2 separate regions of the Homo sapiens genome follow, and region 1 is linked to region 2. Evidence: fine-mapped expression QTL. Tissue or cell type: whole blood. Region 2 holds a variant in brackets; the other region holds the start of a gene. All regions are shown on one strand. Distances are from middle to middle.

Evidence for each region. PIP is the estimated chance that this variant, and not a neighbour inherited with it, causes the effect.
Region 1: SLC37A3 starts here. The variant in region 2 is fine-mapped to the expression of SLC37A3 in whole blood (TOPMed, PIP 0.95).

Annotation. Positions count from the first base shown.
Region 1 is chr7:140,394,140-140,404,451 of GRCh38, reverse strand. SLC37A3 (solute carrier family 37 member 3) reads left to right here and starts at 5,922. Exons shown (of 15, transcript NM_207113.3): 1 at 5,922-6,036. It overlaps RAB19 (RAB19, member RAS oncogene family), which reads right to left and starts at 394. Exons shown (of 4, transcript NM_001008749.3): 1 at 235-394. It overlaps LOC124901759 (a long non-coding RNA gene), which reads left to right. Exons shown (of 2, transcript XR_007060561.1): 1 at 1-267; 2 at 1,630-2,869. RefSeq lists enhancers at 1-319, 320-821 and silencers at 5,775-6,004, 6,115-6,384.
Region 2 is chr7:140,353,064-140,363,375 of GRCh38, reverse strand. It overlaps SLC37A3 (solute carrier family 37 member 3), which reads left to right. Exons shown (of 15, transcript NM_207113.3): 6 at 4,591-4,736; 7 at 7,612-7,708. Among named protein-coding and RNA genes, the nearest start is that of SLC37A3, 40 kb to the left of the region's middle. RefSeq lists enhancers at 1-163, 3,725-3,774. The variant A/G (reference allele first, on the strand shown) is at 4,102.

The DNA of each region.
Region 1 (10,312 bases), 41 kb before region 2:
TTTCAACTAAAGACAGCCATTCCACTTCCGGTGTCTTGGTCTTATCACTGTAACTTGAGCTGAGACTTTACTTCCATGTCTCCCCCCACCCTCAGGAGTCCTCAGGGTTTCCACTAAAGCCCCCTTTCATTGAGCCTACAAGCCTTGCTGGGAGGCACAGGCAGCGTCCACCCCGATGATGTCCTCCCGCCGGCATCCCGCAGCCTTCGCCTTCCTGGTTCACCTGTCGCTTACCTGTCTCGCTCTCTCACCTCTGCTGGTCAGCAGGTAATGTTTTCGCTTTCTTCTGGGTTTGCTTTTCAGCCCCCCAGTGCCCCCTTCTTCCTCCTGCCTCGCTGCTTGGTGGGAAGTGTAGTTCTGGCCCCAGGTGTCGGGTTTGGCGTCCTGAGAAAGTGAAAGGAAAGTGCAATCCCTCCCACCTGCCCTGAGTCCGGAGCTGCCTCAGGGTACAAAGCGCCAGGTGAGGGCGGCCAGCACAGGGCAGGGCGCAGAGCCGGCTTTCTCACCAGCCTTCGCCGGCCTAGCGGAAAGCCCTCACAGGAAGGAACAGCCAGTGAATTAAACCAGTGCTGGCCCATACGACACTGCCCCTGCTCCTTTCTTCTACTTTACCTTGTCTTGTGGGCTTTTGCGTCCTTTGCTCTCAATTTGTCCTGGTGTCCCTTGTTAGGAAACAATTTCAGAATGTATCTCATGTAGTAACAGCGACTGTTTTGCAAAATGTTTGGGTCAGTTGTACATGTGCATATTGTACTGGGTGATGTAAAAAAAAAATTTTTTTTTTTTTTTTGGAGACAAGGTCTCACTCTGTCACCCAGGCTGAAGTGCAGTGGCACCATTCATGGCTCACTGCAGCCTCAACCTCCCGGGCTCAAGCAATCCACCTGCCTCAGCCTCCTGAATATCTGGGACTACAGCTGGCCTGAGGGTTGTTAGTTGAGATAACACCAACTAAAGGAGGATATAGATCTTAAGTAATTTATTTTATTATATATACATATTTTTTAGAGACAGGGTCTTGCTCTATGGCTCAGGCTGGAGTGCAGAGGCATAATTATGGCTCACTGCAGCCACAACATCCCAGGCTCAAGGAAGCCTCCCACTTCAGCCTCCCAAGTAGCTGGGACTACAGTCATACACCACCATGCCCCACTATTTATTGTTTTTAGAGCTGGGATCTCCCTATGTTGCCCATGGTGGTTTGACACTCCTGGGTTTGGCCAGGCATGGTGGCTCATGCCTGTGATCCCAGCACTTTGGGAGGCTGAGGTGGGCAGATCACCTGAGGTCAGGAGTTCGAGACCAGCCTGGCCAACATGGCAAAACCCCATCTCTACTAAAAATACAAAAATTACCCGGGTCTGGTGGTGAGCCTATAATCCCAGCTACTCTGGCAGGAGAATCGCTTGAGCCTGCGAGGTGGAGGTTGCAGTGAGCCAAGGTCGCGCCACTGCACTCCAGCCTGGGTGACAGAGTGAGACTCCGTCTCAAAAAAAAAAAGAAAAAAAGAGAAGAAACTCCTGGGCTCAAGTGATCCTCCTGCCTTGGCTTCCCGAAGTGCTGGGATTACAAGGCATGAAACCACCGTACCTGGCCAGATTGTAAGTAATTTAAGTCTTTGTTTTGTAGATCTGAATATCTCTTTGTGAGGAGTCAGAGAAAGGAGATGATGCAAAGAGAAGGAAGCAAAAACAAAACTAAAAGAACTTTGAAGGTATATGAGAAGAAAAAGCTGAAAAGAAAATGTCTGCCTCACTCCCTCAAAAATTCTACCATAGAGCAAAGGTTGACGTCCAGAAAACCTCAAGTTTATCAGTCCCAGATGCTGGCAGTAGAAGCATAAAGCTGAGGTGAATTTTCCTTACTATTTTTTCCCCAGAGTCTAGAACAGTAACTGCCTCCCAATGTCTATCACAGGGACCAGATTTTCTCCACTACATAGGATGTGATATGTAGGCAGTTAAATGGCATTATAGACACAATAAGCAAAATTGAAACAGAGACACCCTGTTGGATAAAATATTTACATCGGTGTCCTGTTTCCAAACTGTGGGCTGAGACCTATAAATGAGTCATGAAATCAACCTTTGTGGGTTGCAACCAGCATTTTCACAAGAAGGGATTAAGAAACAACTTCAGAATGTATCTTGTGTAGTAACAGTGACTACTGTTTTGCAAAATGTTTGGGTCAGTTGTACACATGCATATTTTACAGGGTGATGTAAAAAAAAAATGTTTTTTTTGAGACAGGGTCTCACTTTGTCTCCCAGGCTGAAGTGCAGTGGCACCGTCATGGCTCACTGCGGCCTCAACCTCCTGGGCTCAAGCAATCTTCCTGCCTTAGCCTCCTGTATATCTGGGACTACAGGTGTGCACCATCATGCCCAGCTATTTATTTCATTTTTTTGTAGAGCCAGGGCCTCACTTTGTTACCCAGACTGGTCTCGAACTCCTGGGATCAAGCAATCCTCCCACATCAGCCTCCCAAGGTGCTGGGATAACAGGCGTGGGCCACCGTGCCTGGCCTGAAATGTCTTTTTAACTGTAGGCTGGGGTCCGCAACGTTTGAGAAGCACTGAAATACAGGGCAATTTATTCACTGTCCAAGAACATTACTTCTATGATGTCTTCAGATAAATTTGAAAATATTTGTCTTACCCAAAATTCCAGTTACATATCCATTTTCAGGATACTCTCTTCTGAGTGAGATAAACTCAACACTGGCAGGTATAGCAAGAAAACAAAAGACTCTGCCAAATATTGCTGCAGGGTGAGAACCACCAGCACAATGTGGAAATCCAGTGTAGGTAAAGATTCGCCCCAAATGTGTGATCAGGAAATAAAACCTGTTAGGTGTCAGTGTCATGAAGTTCAGTGTCCAAATGTTGTCTTTCTTCTGGTAATGGTTACTTTTTTTTTTTTTTTCCTGAGATAAGGTTTAGCTTTTGTCACTCAGGCTCGAGTGCAATGGTGCGATCTTGGCTCACTGCAACCTCCACCTCCCGGGTTCAAGCGATTCTCCTGCCTCAGCCTCCCGAGTAGTTGGGATTACAGGCACCCGCCACCACGTCCAGCTAATTTTTGTATTTTTAGTAGAGATGGGGTTTCACTATGTTGGCCAGGCTGGTCTGGAACTCCTGACCTCAGGTGATCCACTTGCCTCGGCCTTCCAAAGTGCTGGGATTATAGGGGTGAGCCACCGCACCTGGGGTGGTTACTGTTTAAAAAAAAAGTCACCTGACTCAGACCCACTGAGCACTTGGAGAACATCTACAGGTAGAAAACAAATGTTACAAATATTTAAATATCCTGATGGTTTTGGAAGTCAAGGGGAGAGAGATCTTACCTCTGTCTACCACCCAACCCTCTCCACCAAGGTCACTATAAATACAAAGAGCATAGCTTGGGCTACAGGAAAGAAGGCATTCATATGTATAAATGTGTGTGTATATATACACTGTTTTTTCTTTTTTAAGAGACTGGGTCTCCCTCTGTCACCCAGGCTGGAGCACAGTGGTACGATCATAGCTCACTGCAGCCTCCAAAGGTGCGGCTGAAGTGATCCTCCTACCTCAACCTCCCTAGTAGCTGGGATTAAAGATACACACCACCACATGGCTAAGAAGGCATTCTAGCCCTGAGTGGTGGTGACACAGGTTATATACTTGAAGTATACACACACACATATATATGTATACACCCATATGTAAATATAACACAAAAAACTATGTATTTCACTCTATGTATATATATTTACCATTTTAACCGTTTTTAAGTGTACAATTCAATGGCATTAAATACATTGTTGTGCAACCAACATCACCATCCATCTCCAGGACTTTTTTGGCATCCCAAACGGAAACTCCATAGCCATTAAACAACAATTTCTCATTTCCCCTTCCCTCCAGCCATGGGCAACCACCATGCTACTTTCTGACTCTATGAATTTCACTACTCTGGCTACCTCATATAAGTGGAACTGTACTGTACTGGTCCTTTTATGTCTGACTTATTTCACTTAGCATAATGTTTTTGAAGGTTCGTCTATGTTGTAGTATGTGTCAGAATTTGCTACCTTTTTTAGGCTGAAAAATAAACGATTCACAATATATTTTTAAAAATAAAAGTAACATATTTGGCTCATTTATTTTTGCTCACCCTGACATCATATTTCTCCTTGGATGCCTAGAGACAAAACTACCACTGTATAAGGGCTAGAAACAAAACTACCACTGTATAAGGGCAAATAAAAATGAAAAATAACAGGCTTAATTCCTCTGCTGAAAATAAAGAGACTTCTCAGCCTTCTCTCTGTTCCTTCAAAATTTCTTTCTCTGTCCTTTTCGAATGTACACAAATCTTTATAACGGCGAAATGAGCCTCTTGCCAGTATCACAACTCAGAAATGTATCCTCAAGGACTTGGGGGTCATCTTTTTGAAATTCAGACGTGAGTTAGTGCCTGTATCTTCCAGTTCCTACATGAGGGTAAGAGACTAAATTAGTGGGTATGGGCGCCTTGCTCCAATTTGTAAAACTACCTCCTGCTATAAAGATATGCGAACTTTGGCCGGCTGCGGTGGCTCACACCTGTAATGCTAGAACTTTGGGAGGCCAAGGAGGGCAGATCACGAGGTCAGGAGATCGAGACCATCCTGGCTAACACGGTGAAACCCCGTCTCTACTAAAAATACAAAAAAATTAGCCAGGCGTGGTGGCGGGCGCCTGTAGTCCCAGCTATTCGGGAGGCTGAGGCAGGAGAATCCCTTGAACCCGGGAGGCGGAGCTTGCAGTGAGCTGAGATCACGCCACTGCACTCCAGCCTGGGTAACAGAGCAAGACTCCGTCTCAAAAACAAAAAACAAACAAACAAAAAGATATGCGAAGTTTAAAAAACGAACAACAACAACAAAAAGTTATGCGAAGTTTGTTTTGCTTCTGGATAAAGCCAACATGAGTGGTCTCCCCAATTACTACTATTAAGTAAGGAGGAACTATGTTTGACAAAAGGTGTTGTCAAGTTCTGTTATTTGAAGACTAGTGATTGTTTATCTTGAGAACAGGTATGTAATGGTTGTTGTGGAGATTTTCTGGATTAAGAGAAGTTTTTTTTCTTTAAAATTCGAACAAGTGTCTGTATTTTTTCCCTTTATTTAAGAAACGGTGGCGGCGGTGGTGGTGGTGGATGGGGGGCGGCTCTCACTACCTTGCCCAGGCTGGTCTCAAACTCTTGTTCTCAAATGATGCTCCTACTTCGGCCTCCCAAAGTGTTAGGATTACAGGTGTGAGACACTTGTGTTGGATTTTTTTTTTTTGGAGGCAGGGTCTCGTTCTGTTGCCCAGGCTGGTGCAGTGGAGCAATCACAGCTGCCAGCCTCAAACTTTTGGGCTCAAGCGATCCTCGCACCTCGGTCGCCCCAGTAGCAGGGACCACAGGCACATGCCACTACTCCTGGCTAATTTTAACATTTTTTGTAGAGATGGGGTCTGGCTATGTTGCTAAGGCTGGTCTTGAACTACTGGGTTCAAGTGATCCTCCCTTCTCGACCTCCTAAAGTGTTGGATTACAGGCGTGAGCCCACTGTGCCCGGCCTGCATTTAATTAGACACCTAAAATTTAGGCCGGTCAGTAGCACACTTAGCAGCACGTTACTTTTTATAAAAACAAAGACCGAATACCGCTTTTTTGAAAAAAAAAAAAAAAAAAAAAAAAAAAGGATGCACCAGTTCTCCCCATATCATTTCTTCTCTCTACCTCTCGTCTTTTGCAGCTAACATTACTGGCCAGGTCCGCAGCAGCAGAGTTCTGTGGGCTCCCAGCCTCCGCCCTCCTCGCCCTCCTCCGCGCCGGCAGGTGAGGCCGCGTGGCGGGACTACAACTCCCAGCGTGCCCCGCGACGGGAGGGTCACGTGGGCGTCCGGAAACCCTGGTCGCACCGCCAGGGGTGAGCTGGCGGCGGGGGAGGCGGGCAGCGGAGCCAAGCTGACCCGGCGAGCGGAGCCGGGGCTGGAGAGCGGCGACCACTGCGGATCTCGGGTGCGCAAGCGGTGATGCGTGGGGCCGAAGACCTGCTGGGGCGGGGGCGGGTCCAATCCGAGGGGCTTCCCGGGTCGGGAGGGCGGTGGGGAGATGTAGGTGGCGGCCCCCCTTGGGTGGGGCGCCCAGGCAGGGTCGGCCGCTCGCCCCCTCCTTCTCCTCCCTGGGCCCGGGCCTGGGGTCCCGGCCGTCACGGGGAGGCTGCGATGGGGTGGATGGGGAGGAGAAGGACCCCCGGGGGACCCTGCGGCCCGGCCCCGATCCATGCGGCAGAGGCTTTTGTGCTCCTCGCCCGCCTGTCCTCCGGCCGTGGGTCTGGGAGATTCTGACTTGATCAGAAAAGGGCTTGTCGTTCGGACCAGGGGAGAGGGGATGCTTTTCAGGTAGGTGGGGAAGGAAGCTCTTTGGAAAGGATGTATAGAGGTCAGAGAAGAAGCGTGGTCTCAGTGAGTGACTGGTTTTGTTTTCTGGTAACTAGCATGAACTCAGTCAAGGAATTTGGTCAAATTATTCGTCATTCCCTCCTTATTCTTCGCAGGGTGTGTTCTGTTTATTCTCAGTTTTGACAGGAGATAATGGGAATGTGTCCCCGGAGTTTTTAGTGTTTTTTTGAAATGTAAGATGGTAGGCTATCTCGTGGTAACTCTTACTGAAAAGTTTATAGTTTATAGGGAGGAGTGGTTCCTGGGGTGAGCAAAATCATTCAGTTGTTATCTTTTTGTCCACCGGTTTATTTCTACCTTTACACAAATTTATACATACATAAATATATATAACAGTTGTTGAAGGGAATGTCTTCAGTGCTTTGGTGCTTAAATGATTTCTTTTCAGTTTGTTTGATGTTTCTTGGATACTAGGCTCTATACTAAGAACTCCATATAAATTATCTCATTTAATTAATACATGAGGAAATTGAGCTTCGGGTTGGGCGCGGTGTCTCATGCCTGTAATCCCAGCACTTTGGGAGGCCGAGGCCTGTGGATTCCTTGAGGTCAGGAGTTCAAGACCAGCCTGGCCAACATGGTGAAACCCCGTCTCTACTAAAAATACAAAGATTAGCTGGGCGTCGTGGCGCATGCCTGTAATCCCAGCTACTCGGGAGGCTGAGGCAGGAGAATCGCTTGAACCTGGGAGGCGGAGGTTGCAGTGAGCCGAGATCACACCACTGCACTCCAGCCTGGGTGACAGAGCCAGACTCTGTCTTTTTTTTTTTTGAGACTGAGTTTTTGTTCTTGTCGCCCAGGCTGGAGTGCCGTGGCACCATCTCGGCTCACTGCAACCTCCGCCTCCCGGGTTCAAGTGATTCTCCTGCCTCAGCCTCCCGAGTAGCTGGGACTACAGGCGCCCGCCACCACGCCAGGCTAATTTTTGGATTTTTAGTAGGGACGGGGTTTCACCATATTGGCCATGATGATCTGGATCTCCTGACCTCGTGGTCCGCCTGCCTTGGCCTCCCAAAGCGCTGTAATTACAGGCGTGAGCCACTGCGCCCGGCCTCAGACTCTGTCAAAAAAAAAAAAACAAAAAAAAAAACAGAAATTGAGATTCAGAGAAGCTACTTTTAAGTGGAGGGTCTTAGATTCCATACCTGGCTTGTCTCTTGAATGACACCATTCTTCTATTAGTGTTTGATTTCGAGTCTCTGCCTAAGAAGGTGACCCGGAAACAATACTTTTATAAAAGTTAAGTCAACAGTATCTTGCTGCTTTCTAGCTGTCAGGATCAACTGCCTTGTTCATTGTTTAAGGTTCTGATTTGTGCTCTGTTCATCAGTGTTAATGTCATGTCACTGCAGTGACCATTAACTTGATTATAAATCCTTTGGTAGAAGAGGGAAAGATTTTTATCTTGAAAACTAGTTGTCTTTGGAACATGTCCAAAAACAGGGAGGAAGAATGTGGTTTTGGAAACCCTGGAATAAAATGAGAGATATTTACAGATAAATGCCAAGTATTTTATGCCTGTGGTAATGAGATAATTTAAGAAGAGATAAAAATTACAGGAAGACGGATGAATTAATGAATAAAAAGGATTTATGAGGTTCAAGTAAATGGCTTCGTATGAGATAATGTGGGATAAAAAAGATACTTGTGGCTGGGTGCAGTGGCTCATGCCCATAATCCTAGGGCTTTGGGAGGCTGAGGCAGGAGGATCTATCTCTTAAGGCCAGGAATTTAAGACCAGACTGGTTAACATAGCAAGACCCTGTTTCTACAAAAACTAAGAAAATTAGCCAGGTGTGATGGTGCCCACCTGTAGTCCCAGCAACTTTGGAGGCTGAGGCAGGAGGATCGCTTAAACCTAGGAAGGAGATTGAGGCTGCAGTGAACTATGATCACGCCACTGCACTCCAGCCTGGGTAACAGAGTGAGACCCTGTCTCTGAAAAAAAAAAAAAGATAGTTGTATGAGTGTGAGCATTGAGACGCTAAACTGCAACATATACAATACTGTAAAAATGGTGAACTCAACTATACATTTAATAATTTCCCACATTCTTCTTTACACTTTGAAAACACATAATCTTTTTACTGTGCAGACATAAAAACTGAAGTCTGGGAGGTGAGTAATTGCCCATCTAATGCCCCTCTCCTTTGAGTGTGTAAGAGAACCACTCTTACCAGTAAGATGTTTTTTTTCCCCATCCTTGGTATATACCTCTGAGTTTAGGTGTGCTAGTTCTTTTATTTATTTATTTATTTATTTTTTGAGACAGAGTCTTGCTCTGTTGCCCAGGTTGGAGAGCAGTAGGGGGATCTCGGTTCACTGCAACCTCCGCCTCCTGGGTTCAAGCAATTCTCCTGTTTCAGCCTCCCAAGTAGCTGGGATTACAGGCACCCACCACCACACCTGGCCAATTTTTGTGTTTTTAGTAGAGACAGGGTTTCGCCATATTCGCCAGGGTGGTCTAGAACTCCTGACCTCAAATGATCCACCTGCCTTGGCCTCCCAAAGTGCTGGGATTACAGGTGTGAGCCACCGCACCCAGCCTATTTTTATTTTTTTATAGCTCTTTTTTTTTTTTTTTTTTTTTTTTAATTTGAGATGGAGTCTCGCTTTGTCACCAAGGCTGGAGTGCAGTGGCACCATCTCAGCTCACTGCAGCCTCCGCCTCCCGGGTTCAAGCAGTTCTCTGCCTCAGCCTCCCAAGCAGCTGGGATTATAGGTGCCCACCACCACACCTGGCTAATTTTTATATTTTTAGTAGAGACGGGGTTTCACCATTTTGGCCAGGCTGGTCTTGAACTCCTAACCTCGTGATCCACCTGCCTTGGCCTCCCAAAGTGTTCAGGTTACAGGCATGAGCCACTGTGCCCGGCTTTATAGCTCTTTTTTAATGCATGAAGGGTGTGATAGTTCTAACTATTGTATTTTATCCAGCTTGGAGTATTTTCTATTTTAACCTTTACCCTTAAATGATATAACATAGGATCTAGAATTAGATCTGAGTTGGAATGTGCACTCCATCGTTTGAGAGAGATTGCTTTCTTTTTTAAAAAATTTTATGAGGGCTGGGCACAGTAGCTCACACCTGTAATCCCAGCACTTTGGGAGGCTGAGGCAGGCGGATCACGAGGTCAGGGGTTCGAGACCAGCCTTGCCAATATGGTGAAACCCTGTCTCTACTAAAAATACAAAAATTAGCTGGACGTGGTGGTGCATGCCTGTAGTCCCAGCTACTCAAGAGGCTGAGGCAGAAGAATCGCATGAACCTGGGAGGCGGAGGTTGCAGTAAGCCAAGATCACGCCACTGCCCTCCAGCCTGGGCGACAGAGCGAGACCCTGTTTTTTTTTCAGATGGAGTCTCGCTCTGTCGCCCAGGCTGGAGTGCAGTGGTGCAGTCATGGCTCACTGCTGCCTCAGCCTCCCAGGCTCAAGTGATCCTCCCACCTCAGCCTCCCAAGTAGATAGGGCCACAGGTGTCCGCCACCACAACTGGCTGATTTTTGTATTTTTTGTAGAGATGAATGAGGTCTCCCTATGTTGCCAAGGTTGGTCTTAAACTCTTGAGCTTAAGTGATCCTCCCACCTTGGCCTCCCAAAGTGCTGGGATTATAGGCGTGAGCCACTGGACCAGACCTAGAGATTACTTTCTAATATCTGTTTTCTCATCTGTAAAACATTGAGAGAACTAAATGCAGTAATGCATGGTAGGTACCTAGCATGGTGCCTAGTACTTTGTAAGCATTCAGTGTTCTGCTGTCAGTCAACCAATTCATTGATTCAAAAAAAAACTTTTTTTTTTGATATGGGGTCTCACTCTGTTGCCCAGGCTG
Region 2 (10,312 bases):
AGGATCCCAAGGCAGAAGAATTTTTCTTAGTACAGAACAAAATGAAAAGTCTCCCATGTCTACTTCTATCCACACAAACCCGGCAACCATCCGATTTCTCAATTTTTTCCCCACCCTTCCCGCCTTTCTATTCCACAAAACCGCCATTGTCATCATGGCCCATCCCCAATGAGCCGCTGGGCACACCTCCCAGACGGGGTCGTGGCCGGGCAGAGGGGCTCCTCACTTCCCAGTAGGGGCGGCCGGGCAGAAGCGCCCCTCACCTCCCGGATGGGGCGGCTGGCCGGGCGGGGGGCTGACCCCCCCCACCACCCTCCCTGACGGGGCGGCTGGCCGGGCAGAGGGGTCCTCACTTCCCATTAGGGGCGGCCGGGCAGAGGCGCCCCTCACCTCCCGGCCGGGGCGGCCGGCTGGGCGGGGGGCTGACCCCGCCACCTCCCTCCCGGACAGGGCGGCTGGCCGACCCCCCCCCCCGCCTCCCTCCCGGACGGGGCGGCTGGCCGGGCAGAGGGGCTCCTCGCTTCCCAGTAGGGGCGGCCGGGCAGAGGCGCCCCTCACCTCCGGGACGGGGCGGCTGGCCAGGCGGGGGGCTGATCCCCCCACCTCCCTCCCGGACGGGGCGGCTGGCCGGGTGGGGGGCTGACCCCCCACCTCCCTCCCGGACTGGGCGGCTGGCCGGGCAGGGGGCTGACCCCCCCCCCCACCTCCCTCCCGGACGGGGCGGCTGGCCGGGCAGAGGGGTCCTCACTTCCCAGTAGGGGCAGCCGGGCAGAGGCGCCCCTCACCTCCCGGACGGGGCGGCTGGCCGGGCGGGGGGCTGACCCCCCACCTCCCTCCCGGACGGGGCGGCTGGCCGGGCAGAGGGGTCCTCACTTCCCGGTAGGGGCGGCCGGGCAGAGGCGCCCCTCACCTCCCAGACGGGGCGGCTGGCCGGGCGGGGGGCTGACCCCCCCCCCCACCTCCCTCCCGGACGGGGCGGCTGCCGGGCGGAGACGCTCCTCACTTCCCAGACGGGGTGGCTGCCGGACGGAGGGGCTCCTCACTTCTCAGACGGGGCGGTTGCCAGGCAGAGGGTTTCCTCACTTCTCAGACGGGGCGGCCGGGCAGAGACGCTCCTCACCTCCCAGACAGGGTTGCGGCCCAGCAGAGGCGCTCCTCACATCCCAGACAGGGCGGCGGGGCAGAGGCGCTCCCCACATCTCAGACAATGGGCGGCGGGGAAGAGGCGCTCCTCGCTTCCTAGATGGGATGGCGGCCGGGAAGAGGCGCTCCTCACTTCCTAGATGGGATGGTGGCCGGGCAGAGACGCTCCTCACTTTCCAGACTGGGCAGCCAGGCAGAGAGGCTCCTCATATCCCAGACGATGGGGGGCCAGGCAGAGACGCTCCTCACTTCCCAGACAGGGTGGCGGCTGGGCAGAGGCTGCAATCTCGGCACTTTGGGGGGCCAAGGCAGGCAGCTGGGAGGTGGAGGTTGTAGCGAGCCGAGATCACGCCACTGCACTCCAGCCTGGGCACCATTGAGCACTGAGTGAACGAGACTCCGTCTGCAATCCCGGCACCTCGGGAGGCCGAGGCTGGCGGATCACTCGCGGTTAGGAGCTGGAGACCAGCCCGGCCGACACAGCAAAACCCCGTCTCCACCAAAAAAAAAACGAAAACCAGTCAGGCGTGGCGGCGCGCGCCTGCAATCGCAGGCACTCGGCAGGCTGAGGCAGGAGAATCAGGCAGGGAGGTTGCAGTGAGCCGAGATGGCAGCAGTACCGTCCAGCTTTGGCTCGGCATCAGAGGGAGACCGTGGAAGGAGACCGTGGAGAGAGAGGGAGACGGAGAGGGAGAGAGGGAGGGGGAGGGGGAGGGGGAGGGGGAGGGGGAGGGGGAGGGAGAGGCTGTGTGTCCGGAGTTTTGCTCTTGTTGCCCAGGCTGGAGTGGAATGGCACAATCTTGGCTCACCACAACCTCCACCTCCCAGGTTCAAGCGATTCTCATGCCTCAGCCTCCTGAGTAGCTGGGATTACAAGCATGCACCACCACACCTGACTAACTTTTTTATTTTTAGTAAAGACGGGTTTCTCCATGTTGGTCAGGCTGGTCTCGAACTCCCGACCTCAGGTGATCCGCCCACCTCGGCCTCCCAAAGTGCTGGGATTACAGGTGTGAGCCACCGCACCTGGCCCTATCCTGCTCCTTTCTATCTCGGTGCTTTTGTTTCTCCTGTTCTGCCTGCCTTGGATGGTCCCCTTTTCAGCTCTCCATAGTCTAACTCACAGTCTCCTTCAAGCATTGGCCAAATGACACCTCTTTGAGAATGTCAGTCCCGCTTCTGAGCTGCAGTGCCTGTTTCTTTGCAGGCACTTGAAACAGTCTGCCGCTTAGCTTGGTTATTTCTGGTTCAGTCTTGCTTTCCCTTAGGGTGGGTATGCAGTGGTTAAAATCACAGATTCCCTAGACAAGGACAGCCTGGGTTTCTGTCTGTCTTCTGTGGTTTTCTAGCTTATGATTTCTGTGAGCTTCAGAGGGAGATGGGCATATTAGCTCTCCCCGGGTGGCAGTGAGGACTGTGAGTTTCTGTATGTGAGGCATTTGAAACAAGTGCTGTGTAGGGGAGGATCCATATCTGATTAATCTTTTTTTTTTTTTTTTTAAACGGAGTCTTGCTCTGTCACCCAAGCTGGAGTGCAGTGGCATGATCTTGGCTCACTGCAACCTCCACTTCCCAGATTCAAGCCATTCTCCTGTTTTAGCCTCCTGAGTAGCTGGGACTACAGGTGTGCACCACCATTCCCGGCTAATTTTTGTATTTTTAGTAGAGTCAGGGTTTCACCATGTTGGCCAGGCTAGTCTTGAACTCCTGACCTCAGGTGATCTGCCCACCCCAGCCTCCCAAAGTGCTGGGATTACAGGGGTGAGCCACCGTGCCCAGCCTCCATATCTGACTAATCGTCATTGCTTACTAGCTTCTAGTCAGGAATTTTTGTTGATTAAATGAAACCATGGAGTTTAGTTAGACCCTAATTTATTATGATTATTATTTTTTTAGAGATAAGGTCTCGATTTGCTGCCCAGGCTGGAGTGCAGCGGTGTGATCCTGCAGCCTTGAACTCCCAAGCTCGAGCAATCCTCCCATTTTAGCCTCCCGTGTAGCTGGGACTGTAGGTGTGTACCATCATGCTTAGCTAATTTTTAAATTTTTTAGTCATGGGGTCTCACTATATTGCCCAGGTTGTTCCTTGAACTCCTGGCCTTAAGTGATCCTCCCTCCTTTGCCTCCGCAAACACTGGAATTACCGGCACAAGTCCCTGCGTTTGGCCTACTATTGTTTTTCAGTGTTTGTCATTTGAGTGTAAGTAAAACCTTTTTTCCCCTTGACATTTTAGAGATGGAAGCACTTTATTTATTTATGAGTTGCTCACCCACACATAATAAACATATTATTTTAAAACCTGTGTACAGACTTTTTTGTGTTTTATGTATTTTTTAAAAACTGCAGTTTGTACATAAACTTGCCCTTTTTAAGCATATTGTTCAGACTTTTCAACAAATGAGTAGTTTTGTGACCGCCCCTTCTTTCTCCAGCCCCTGGCAACCCCTGATCATTTTTCTGTGTACAGTTTTACTTATTCCAGAATGTCTTGTAACTGGAACTAGACAGTATTATACATACTATTTTTTAATCATGCAGAGTATTCTCAGAATAGAGTTTGACTGTAGATAAAATGTCCACTTGAGCAAAATGCCTGGAAAAAAGCAGCCCCTTGATGAAAGCTGCTAAATGATTCAGCAGATCACAAGTTTGATAGGTTTCGCTTTCGTTGATTAACTCAGGAGCTGTAGCCATAACAGTGGCTGGCATGCGCCCCGTGCCTCTGCCCATAGCAGCACCTGGCACTGCTCCGGGAAAGGTGGCCTCCCTGGGCTCGTTCTGTCCTCACAGCAGCCCTCTGGAGGTTGCTGTTCCCTCCACATGCACAGTCTGAGGGTGAGGAGATGGAAATACATGTAAAATGAGGAATTACTTTTTTTTTTTTTTTTTGAGACAGAGTCTCGCACTCCCGCGCAGGCTGGAGTGCAGTGGCACGATCTTGGCTCACTGCAAGCTCC[A/G]CCTCCCAGGTTCATGCCATTCTCCTGCCTCAGCCTCCTGAGTAGCTGGGACTACAGGCACCTGCCACCACGCCTAGCTAATTTTTTATAATTTCATTAGAGACGGGGTTTCACCGTGTTAGCCAGGATGGTCTCGATTTCCTGACCTTGTGATCTGCCCTCCTCGGCCTCCCAAAGTGCTGAGATTACAGGCGTGAGCCCGGCCTGGAATTCACTTTTTAGCCTTGAAGATGTCAGTTGGAGGGCTGATAGCTTAATGACTTTATGTCTTTGGCATCTCCTCCTCTCTGGTGGGCAGTGATTGGGTGGCTGCCTCCTCACTGTGGCTCTGAGCAGGACCTTTGTGATGCTGGCCACGTGACTTACAGGCACTGGCTGTGTGAGTGTATCCTTCACGTGGTCTCTACTCTGAAGCAAGTGGGTAGAGTGGCGTCCACTGAAAGTGTCAGTGTGGCTGTTACATATTCCTTTTGTTTCCTCCTCTTCAAGGTGTTTGTCTTTGGTGCGCTCACAGAATGGCTGCGTTTCTACAACAAATGGCTGTACTGCTGCCTGTGGATTGTGAACGGCCTGCTGCAGTCCACTGGTTGGCCCTGTGTGGTTGCTGTTATGGGCAACTGGTTTGGGAAAGCCGGGTATGCCACTTCCTTCCTCTCTAATTTCTCTGTTTAAGTGGTTTCCATGGTGGATTTTTCAGACTTGTCAAAGTCAGTTACTTTGCTGCCTTAGATACCACCCACATCTTTCGTTAGCAAGTCAGAGTTGTTCAGGGAGAGAGGGTTTCACGTCAGTGTGCGTTGGAAATGGTGTGGACCTTAGAAGTCATCCAGCCTAGGAGACACACTCCTACCACTCTTTGGGCTGTGGGCAGATTCTGAGTGTGGGCCAAGGCAGGAGGTCTCAATTTTTTATTTTACTCATCGTTTCTTTATAGAACATAAAAATCTCATTTACTATCCATCATGTATCTTCCTTTGGGTTTTGCCTTCCCTGCCCTTTTTTGAGAGTGATCTTATTTAACCTTTTTACATTAAAGATAAGGAAATTAAGGTCAAAGGTTATTCATGTTGACCTGCCCAAGGTCATGTAACAAGGGCTCTAATTAGACTCAGATGAAGAACGCCAGACTTTGGGGCTTGATCAAATGGGGTATTTTTTCCCTCTAAACCTTCAAGGAGCTTTTTTTTCTTTTTTGTTTTTGAGACAGAGTCTTGCTCTGTCACCAGGCTGGAGTGCAGTGGGGTGATCTCGGCTCACTGCAACCTTCGCCTCCGGGGTTCAAGTGATTCTCCTGCCTCAGCCTCCCAAGTAGCTGGGATTACAGGTGTGTACCACCATGTCCAGCTAATTTTTTTTTTTTTTTTGAGATGGAGTTTTGCTCTTGTTGCCCATTGCAATGGCGCGATCTCGGCTCACTGCAACCTCCGCCTCCCAGGTTCAAGCGATTCTCCTGCTGTAGCCTCCTGAGTAGCTGGGATTACAGGCATGTGCCCCCACACCTGGCTAGTTTTGCATTTTTAGTACAGATGGGGTTTCTCCATGTTGGTCAGGCTGGTCTCGATCTCCTGACCTCAGGTGATTTCGCCCGCCTCAGCCTTCCAAAGTGCTGGGATTACAGGCATGAGCCACCGCACCCAGCCATAATTTTATATATAAATGGAATCATACAGTATGTACTCTTTTTTTGAGTCATCTTTTTTTTTTTTTTTTCCTGTAGAGAAAGGGTCTGTGTTGCCCAGGCTGGTCTCAATTTCATGGCCTCAAGCTATTCTGCCTCGGCCTCCCGAAGTGCTGGGAATATAGGCATGAGCCACCACACCCAGCCTTTGTGTCTTCTTTCATTCAGCATAATTATAAATTTATTCATGTTTATTCATTCACCTGTGGATGAACATTTGGGTTGTTTTCAGTTTTGGGCGGTTACAAATAAAGCTCCTGGGAACATTTGTGTACAAATCCTTGTGTGGACATATGCTTTCATTTCTCTTGGGTAAATATCTAGGGGTAGAATGGCTGGATCATATGCTAGGTTTGTATTTCCCTTTTTTTTGTTTTTCCCCAGGACAGAGTTTCGCTCTTACTGCCCAGGCTGGAGTGCAATGGCGTGATCTCGGCTCACCTCAGCCTCCACCTCCTGGGTTCAAGCAATTCTCCTTCCTCAGCCTCCCGAGTAGCTGGGATTACAGGGGCCCGCCACCATGCCCAGCTAATTTTTTGTATTTTTAGTGGAGATGGGGTTTCTCCATGTTGGCCAGGCTGGTCTTGAACTCCTGACCTCAGGTGATCCACCCACCTTGGCCTCCCAAAGTGCTGGGACTATAGGCGTAGCTACTGCGCCTGGCTGCGTTTACCATTTTAAGACACTGGCAGTCTCTTCCAAGGTGGTCGTACCATTTTACATTCCCATCAGCAGAGCATAAGGGTTCTTATTGCTCTGTGCCCTTCCCAACACTTGGCGTGCTTGGTGTTTTTTGATTTTAGCCATTCTAATAGGTGTGTAATGATATCGCATTGTGACTTTAATTTCCATTTTTCTAATATCTAATGACGTTGAGCATCTTTTTAAAAACATTTTTGCTTTGTTTTGCTTTTGAAACAGGGTCTCGCCCTGTCACCCAGGCTGGAGTATAGTGGTGCGATCTCGGCTCACTGCAACCTCCGCCTCCTGGTTTCAAGTGATTCTCTTGCCTCAGCCTCCCAAGTAGCTGGGATTATAGGTGTGCAGCCACCATGTGCAGCTAATTTTTGTATTTTTAGTAGAGACGGGGTTTCGCCGTGTTGGTCAGGCTAGTCTCAAACTCCTGACCTCAAGTGACCTGCCCACCTCAGGCCTCCCAAAGGCTGAGATTACAGGCGTGAGCCCTCGCCTGGCCACTTGAGTGTTTTTTCGTGTGCTTCTTTGTATATTTTTTTGTGTGAAGTATCTATTAAAATCTTTTGCCCACTTTTCAAAGACTTTGTATTTTGAGATGATTGTAGATTCATGCTTTTTAACATACTATTGCATTGTCTGTTGTCATATTTTACTGAGTTTTGAGGGCCTTATATTCTGGATTTTTTTGTTTTGTTTTTTTTTTTTGGGAGGTGGAGTCTCGCTTTGTTGTCAAGGCTGGAGTGCAGTGGCGTGATCTCGGCTTACTGCAACCTCTGCCTCATGGGTTCAAGCTATTCTCTTGCCTCAGTCTTCCGAGTAGCTGGGATTACAGGCGCCTGCCACCACGCCCAACTGATTTTGTATTTTTAGTAGAGATGGGGTTTCTCCATGTTGGTCAGGCTGGTCTCGAACTCCTGACCTCAGGTGATCTGTCCGCCTTGGCCTCCCAAAGTACTGGGATTACAGGTGTGAGCCACTGCGCCCAGCCCATTTTAGTGTATTTTTAAAAACTTTTTAAATAGCATGTTTAGTCTTGGTAGTATGCACCTTGGTTGTTTTGGCTGTTTTGTATTTTGAACTGCCCAGAGTATCTCTTCTGACCATGGCCCTTTGTCTCCCACTGTTTTCCATCTTAGACGAGGAGTTGTTTTTGGTCTCTGGAGTGCCTGTGCTTCGGTGGGCAACATTTTGGGAGCGTGCCTAGCTTCTTCTGTTCTTCAGTATGGTTATGAGGTAGGTATTGTTTTCTAGCTCTGGTGCTCTCTCTCTCTCTCTGTGTGCACATGTGTATTGCTTTTTATGTATTAAATAATACTGTGGCCATTTAAAACTATGTAGAACTGTGTCTGGATAGGGCAAGGCTTGTATTAAAAGTAGACAAACTTCTGGCCGGGTGTGGTGGCTCACGCCTATAACCCCAGCACTTTGGGAGGCCAAGGCAGGCGGATCAGCCGAGGTCGGGAGTTTGAGACCAGTTTGGCCAACATGGTGAAACCTCGTCTCTACTCAAAAAATACAAAAATTAGCTGGGTGTGGTGGCGCATGCCTATAATCCCAGCTACTCTGGAGGCTGAGGCAGGAGAATCGTTTGAACCCACGAGGCGGAGGTTGCAGTGAGCCAAGGTCGCACCGCTTCACTCCAGCCTGGGTGACAGAGTGAGACTCTGTTCAGAAATAAATTAATTAAAAAAAAAAAAGTAGACAAACTTCTGATATATTCATTAAAAGTAGATAAACTTCTGATATATTCAAACACATAAAAAATTATTCGTAACAAAAACACTATGGAGAGTCTAAAGACATATAACCAGTTGAGAAGTATTTGCAACTCATGTTACAGATAAAGGACTAATCTGGGTCAGGCATGGTGGCTCACGCCTGTAATCCCAGCACTTTGGGAGGCTGAAGTAGAAGGATCACTTGAGCCCAGGAGTTCAAGATCAGCCTGGGCAATATAATGAGACCTTGTACCTACAAAAAAACTAAAAAATTAGCTGAGTGTGGGGGTGTATGCCTATAGTCTCTGCTATTCAGGAGGCTGAGGTGGGAGGATTGATTGCTTGAGCCTGGGAGCTGGAGGGTACAGTGAGCCAAGATACACCACTGCACTCCAATCTTGGTGATGGAGCAAGACCCTGTCTCAAAAAAAAAAAAAAAAAACACCAAAAAGCAAAGACTAATCCCCCCTAATATGTAAAGAGCATCCATGAATTGATAAGAAAAAGACCAACAACAGAAAGATACAGAATTTGAATGTATAGCTCATGTAAAGCATGTAGGAATGGCTTGTAAACATATGTAAAATATTCTACTCACTGCTTATTCATTTAATAAATATTTAACTCCCTGTATATGCTCTTGGAACTATAGAATATAGAACTGACCAACAGGGACAAAAATCTCTGTTCTTATGGAACTTAGCAGGGAAATGCAAATTAAAGCTATGTTGTTTAAAAAAAAAAAAGGAAGAAAAACTATACTGTATACTTATTAGACTAAAAATCCAAAAGTTTGAAAACATGTTGTACTTTTAAGAACCTGAAGAGACAGGCATTGCAGTTGAAAGACTAACAGAGTCACTAACTCATGGAGGGGTCAATATGGAAGTGTCTGTCAAAATTACAACTACGCACACTGAGTAGTTCCACCTCCAGGAATTATTCACACAGATGAATAGACTAAAACACATGCAAATGATGCATCTACAAGATTCTTTATTTTGGCATTGTTTATAATAGCCAAAGAGTGAACACAACTGTCAGCGAACAGGGACATAGTTCAACCATGATAAACCTGTTGAAAGCAATGCTGTGCACCTGTGAAGTCGAATGAGGAAGCTCTGTATGAACTGATAGCAGTGCACTGCAGCAATCTCAAAAGTGTGCTAAGTGGGCCAGGTGTGGTGGCTCACGCCTGTAATCCCAGCACTTTGGGAGGCTGAGGCAGGTGGATCACGAGGTCAGGAGTTCAAGACCAGCCTGGCCAACATGATGAAACCCTGTCTCTACTAAAAATACAAAAATTAGCCGGGCGTGGTCACGGGCACCTGTAATCCCAGCTACTCCAGAGGCTGAGGCAGAGAATTGCTTGAATCCAAGAGGCGGAGGTTGCAGTGAGCCAAGATCATGCCATTGCACTCCAGCCTGAGTGACAAAGCGAGACTCCGTATCAAAAAAAAAACAAAACAAAACAGTGTGCTAAGTGAAGACAGCAAGGGTGCAAAACTGTGTATTGAATGCCATTTATGTAAGAAGGAAGAATGAAAGAGAATATGCTTGTATTAGCTTGTATGTTTCCAAAACAATTTCTGGGCAGTAAAAATGAACAACAATGGTTATATGTTGGGAAAATCGGGAGAATTGAGCAGATGGGGAAGGTGGGGTAGGAAGGAGAGTTTTTACTGTACTTTCTTTTTTTTTTTTCCAAGACAGAGTCTCACTCTGTCACCTAGGCTGGAGTGCAATGGCGTGATCTCAGCTCACCGCAACCTCCTGGGTTCAGGAGATTCTCCTGCCTCAGCCTCCCGAGTAGCTGGGATTACAGGTGTACGCCACCACGCCTGGGTAATTTTTGTATTTTTAGTAGAGATGGGGTTTCACCATGTTGGCCAGGCTAGTCTTGAACTCCTGACCTCAGGTGATCCGCCCACCTCGGCCTCCCAAAGTGCTGGGATTATAGGTATGAGCCACCGTGCCCAGCTTGACTGTACCTCTTATTCCTCTGTTGCTTGAATCATGTGAATATATTACCTACTCAAAAACCTAAATTATTAAAGGTAAGTTCGCTCTTTTAAAAGGTAGATACATTTTTAAACAGCTCACCAAGAATTTTGGTGTA